Linked DNA regions of Homo sapiens: region 2 is linked to region 1. Evidence: fine-mapped expression QTL. A gene starts in region 1. The other region holds a variant in brackets. All regions are shown on one strand. Distances are between the middles of the regions.

Evidence for each region. PIP is the estimated chance that this variant, and not a neighbour inherited with it, causes the effect. A credible set is the group of variants that fine-mapping cannot tell apart.
Region 2: its variant is the best candidate, but not a certain one, in a credible set for the expression of FAM230C in stomach (GTEx, PIP 0.62).

The regions. Positions count from the first base shown.
Region 1 is chr13:18,194,171-18,197,088 of GRCh38, reverse strand. It overlaps FAM230C (family with sequence similarity 230 member C), which reads right to left and starts at 1,792. Exons shown (of 8, transcript NR_027278.1): 1 at 1,678-1,792. It also overlaps the pseudogene LOC124903223.
Region 2 is chr13:18,224,000-18,226,917 of GRCh38, reverse strand. The region is part of intron 4 of FAM230C (family with sequence similarity 230 member C); the gene reads right to left. Among named protein-coding and RNA genes, the nearest start is that of FAM230C, 30 kb to the right of the region's middle. The variant C/T (reference allele first, on the strand shown) is at 1,328.

The sequences.
Region 1 (2,918 bases):
GAGAAATACAATCAAAGTGAGAACCCACAATCCTTGATATCAAATTAAATTGCCAAGTTGTAGTTATGCAGTAGATATATGGTACTTGCATAAAAAGAAATACCTAGAACTATGGACAAAAACAGGGAGGACAAAAACAACACAAATATGGACACAGTCAACTGACTTTGATAAAGAACACCACAATGTGGAAGGCAGAGTCTGATCAATGAATAGCTTTGAGAAAAATGATATCCGGATGCAAAAGCGAGAAACAGGACCCTTATTTTACACGATGTATGAAAATCAACCGCCCCCCCCATCAACTGAAGGCCAAAACAAAATACCATAAACCACAAAATGTTTTTTAAAAAATTACTGTGTTTACTTAAGTAAAACACAGGTTGAGCATATATTTTGGGTCACTTGAATCTCTGTTAACCTTTGCAAAGAGGAAAAGAAACAAACACCCTGGAAGAAAAACCTCACTGACAATTAAATGCTTTGTTACTGATGCATATTTTCTAATATGGGTGACCATTATGACACGCATAAAACGCAAAAAAAAAAAAAATATGGGACTACATCAACGTGAAAAGTTTCTGCATGGCAAAGAAAACTACTTTCCAAATAAAAAAGCATCCCATAGATTATGCAAAAATTTCAGGCAATCATGTAATTCACGAGGAGTTGTCAACTAACGTGTACACAAAAAAGAGTACAAAGTAGAAAAAGAATCCAATCTAATATTTCGCAAATAACCTAAAGAGACAATTCTGCACAGATATAAAATCGAACAACAGATAAGAGATAAGGTCCTCGAAATTAACTATTCATTAGAATACTGTAATTCAAAACCACACGCAGATAGTCTCACACTTATTGAATATTCCTAGAAAAATTTTTTAAAAATAGGAGGGTCTGGGAGCCGTGGCTCACGTCTGTAATCCCAGCACTTTGGGAAGCCAAGGCGGGTGGATCACCTGAGGTCACGAGTTTCAGACCAGCCTGACAAATATCGTGAAACCCCGTCTCTACTAAACATAAAAATACAAAAATTAGCCGGGCGTGGTGGCGGGCGCCTGTAGTCCCAGCTACACAGGAGGCTGAGACAGGAGAATTGCTTGAAACCGGGAGGTGGAGGTTGCAGTGAGCCGAGATGGCGCCACTGCCCTCCAGCCTTGGAGACAGAGCGAGACTCCGTCTCGAAATAACAAAAACAAAAAAAATTGGAATGGGGGTTTGGTTTTGGAGAAACGGGAACTCATACACTGTAGGTGGAAATGAAAATTAGGGTACACACCATGGAAAACAGTTAAATAGCTGGAAACTCCTCAAAGAATTGAAACTACAGATGTCCCCTGCTCTAGCGAGGTCTCTTTCTAAAGGTCCTGAGGCATAAAAAATAACCCTAGACCCCAGCTCAGAGGCCCGTGGGGCTCGGAGGGACCCAGTCCAGCGCTTCACCGCCGGCTCTGGGCCAGGGCGCTCCTATAGGCTGGACGTGGGTCGGACCGGGGCATAGCCTTCCCGGCGGGGGTGTGGACGCTGCAGAGGCCAGGATCCCACAACCGCCCCAACGCTGACGACTCGGGCCCAGATGCCCACTTAGAAGTCAGGGCCCGAAAGCAGGGAGCGGCCGGGAAGGAGTAGGGAGACCCAGAGGGTTCCAGGTGGGGTTCATCCCCCTCCACTTACCGCCGAGGCCTGCCACCTCCTCCACCAACAAACGGAAGCCACCACATCTTCTCCGAGACTCGCTCTGACCACGCCGCCGATGCTGCCCGGGCCTCGCACGAAGCGCAGTCTCGGCTTCCCTCGGGGCCTGCATGCTGGCAGCGTCCCTGGCGCCAGGCTGAAGCACCACCCCCTCTTAAAGGGGCCGCGGCTGGGACTGGGCAGAAGCAGCTTCGGGTTGCACAGGCTGAGCGTCTGCCCAGCCCCAGGGGTGGAAGAAAGGCCCCCAGTCTGTCATCCTCCCGGGCTCTAGGGCCCTAGAGGTCGCAGAAGCCCCTCCTGTGACCCCAGCCCCTAAATCGGCTCCCTTTGCCTGAGGAGCGCCCGGGACCTGCCCCTGCCCTCCTCGGGACCTCAGCTTCACCATCCTCAAAGAAAGCGGCCTGGCTGGAGCTCTGGGGTCCCTCAAGCTCGGCGCCTCAGGATCCAGGGTGGGCTCCCCTGCCCCTCTGCAGAGGGGGCCCAATAGCCACGGAAAGCTGGGGGCTGGAGGGACAGTCCCGAGGGCAGCAGGGCGTCCTTGGCCTCACCGTCTACATTCGTCCTGTGGGAGCCCGGGGGCGTCGCTAGGGCCCAGACTCCTGCGGCCTCACCAGGGCTGCCTGGGTCACCGGGCTCCCCAGGAGGCAGGGAGGGACCCTGGGGTCCAGCGCTGCCCCCACCTCAACTCCATTCTGCGTCAGCATCCGCGAGGGGATCCTGTGGACTGGACCCAGACCCACTCCTTCCCGGGGAGCGGGACCCGCATCGGTCTCTGTGACACCCACGGGAGGGGCCGTGCTGACCTCTCCCGGGGATCTGGGGGCGAGGTGGGGGAATCTCGGCCACCTCTTGAAGCTCGCTGAGCCCCCCACCCCAGAGAGCGCTCAGGAGCAAAGGAAAGGACGGAGAGCCCACACATTTTCTATCTTTCATTTCCGTTTTTTCTTTTTTCCCCCCTCCAAAATGAAAGACGTGTGTAGCTTTGTCCCCTGTACACCATCCATTCCCCATGGCCGCTGTGCGGATCCAGCCCGCTGGTTGCCTCTAGGGTCCTGGGCGCCCGGCGGTCCGCATGCAGCCCGGGGCCTGCCCAGGTGAGGTCTGCGGCCGCCACAGCGCTGAGGTCCCGCCTGGCCGGGGCGCACGGGCCGCTGGGGATGCTGGCTGCGAGGCTCCGGGGAGGTGGAGCGGGAGGTTGTCCCAGGCCCTGGCTGCAGAGC
Region 2 (2,918 bases), 30 kb before region 1:
CCCCCTTCAAATTTATGTCTTTGTTACTGATAAATGTAACTGATAATGCTTTTTTCAGCTATGTTGCCAAGCATATTTATATAAAAATATACTCAGATTGTTTTCAGAATTTGACAAAGATGATAGCAACAATGATAATCTCATTTGTTTTATACTAATCTTTATGTGTTACTTTCATCATTTCTTACATATTGGGGCCTACCATACATTGTACAGTGAAATTAGTACTATGCATCATGGTAGGAATATAAATTGGCAAAAGTAATTTAGAAAATAGTTCTCGTTTCTTAAAAAAATTAGGCTGGGTGTGGTGGCTCATGCCTATAATCCCAGCACTTTGAGAGGCAGAGGTGGGCGGATCACCTGAGGCTAGGAGTTTGAGACTAGCCTGACCAACACAGCAAAATCCTGTCTCTACTGAAAATACAAAAATTATCCATGCGTGGTGGTGTGTGCCAGTTGTCCCAGCTACTCGGGAGGTTGAGGCATGAGAATTGCTTAAACCTGGGAGGTGGAGGTTCCAGTGAGCTGAGATTGTGCCACTGCACTCCAGCCTGGGTCTCAGAAAAAAAAAAAATTTTTTTTGACCAAAATGTCATTATGCATTACATGACTGTATATGAATGCTCAAAGCTACATTACTCATCAAAGAAAAAAACAAAATAATTAAATGTCCATTAACTGATAAATGAATAAACACTATCTGTATGAATAAACACAGCAGACTATGAAGGAAAACACATGACCAGCACGTGCTAACACGTCAATTAACTTCAAACATAGTATGCTAAATGAAGGAAGTCAGATTCCAAATATATATATATGTCCATTTCTATAAAGCAAGTGGGAAATTTATGGAGATGGAATGTCACAGCAGTATTGCTTAGGGCTGGAGATGGGAGTGGGGATTAACTGCCAGTGCACAAGAGAGAACTTGGGTGAGGGAAACATATTTAAATTAGATCGTGGTGTTGGGTGCACACAGTATCAATTTAATAAAGCATCAAATTGCAGACCTTTTCAGTGGGCAAACTTTATGGTGGGTTCACACCCAATATAGGTGTTAAAAATAAATTAATGTTATGGAAATTCTTGTCGGGTTTTTAACAAGCCAAGAGATATGCTGTGAAAGCAGCATTAATTCAAATGGTTGTCACAGGTCACTTAATCAGATAGTTGTCCTACAAATATAGGGTGAATGTTATTCACGAATTTCCTGAATCTATTGCAATAATCACATTTTTTTCCATTAAACTCTTGAGGTAGCTAATTTTATTTATTGCATTTTCAATGTTAATCTACTATTTCATATTTTGAGATTAACTCA[C/T]ATTAGTCAGAATTTACAGTATTTTAAAATATCACAGAATTTAATTTACCTTATCTGGTTTTGGTTTCAAGACTATACTAGCCATTTCATTTAATTGTACATGTAGGGTATTCTAATTTATGGAAAACTATTACATCTTCCTTGATTTTTTTTTTTTTTTAGAAATTACTTCTAGGGATCTATATGGTAGAGTCCATGGAGAATTGTTTTAATTCTACATTCATGTCTTCAGTGGGTATACGATTGGTCATATTGGTCATAGTTTTCTGCTCGGATTTCAATAAGAAACTTGTGGAAGAACCTGAAGGGTGGGATCTTTGAGGGAGCCTAAGACGGAGCAAGACAAGCTAAGAAGGAGGGCAGTGCCACAGCAGAACTGTTATTGATGCCCCCTCACCTAGATTGCAGAAGAGACATCCAGCTGTAGACACTGAGGTGCAGGAAAACAATGGAGCACCATCAGAGAAAGCAGTGCCCAGGAACAAGGAGGCACTGATGGTGGCAAGGGGCAAAGACAGCTACCACGAGGCTGTTCACATGAGGGTCTCAGGCTGCATAGACACCCACACCAGCTGAGGGGTCCTGGTTTTCATAAAGTGTGTGGCTCAGCCAGGCCACCAACAAGAAGTTCACAAACAGTAGTAATACGACACTTTCCAAAGACCTTACTTGAGTAACATGGTGATCCTCACAAATTTCCAATCAGGATGGTCGCACGGTTCCTCCTGCTTTAGGACTCAGAGCCTGCCCATGGTCACAGTGGGTAGGTGCAGACTCTGAAGATGCCCTTTGGTCAGAGACCCCGCTGAACTCTGTCTAATGAGGACCTCTGTCCTGTCTGCTGACCACCGGTCAGAGGTGCAGGCTGCACTGGGGAGTAAGAATGCCACCTTCTCAATGTTGGGAAAACTCCCTGCCAGAACTGAGAATGGCCCTTTCTAAGCAGAAGACAAGCTCAGACTAAAGAAGGAGGCCGACCACATCAGGTTGGCAGATTGCCAAAGATTCACTCAGGGAGAGCCCACATCCTGGGCCATCTTGGGTGGTGGCAAGATGAGGTAGATGACTGCTTTTGCAACACATACCTGACAACAAAAAATCAACAACTGTAAAAGAGCCACAAAATCCCCAAATATTTGCAAATTAGCAATGCAGTTTTAAATAACTCATGGGTTAAAGAAGAAGTCTCAATAGAAAATTAAAAATACTTTTAACTACATTAAAAGAAAATGTGACTTGGCAAGATTTCTGGATGTAGCAAAAGCAGTCCTTAGAGGGAAATCTATAGCATTGGATGTAATATACTAAAAATCACAAGATCTAAAATCAGTAATATCATGTTTCAATTAGGGAACTGTAGAAAATAGAGGAATGCAATGGAAAGCAAGTAAAAGTAATAAACAACATCACAGAAATCAATAAAATTAAAACACTGAAATCATCAGAAAATCAATAAAACCAAAAGCTGGTTCTTTGATATGCTCATTACAATGAATGAATTGATATGCAGGCTAACCAAGAAAAAGAAGATAACACAAATGACCAATTTCAGAAATAAAAGAGGAGCCATCTCTACTGAACTGTTAGGCAT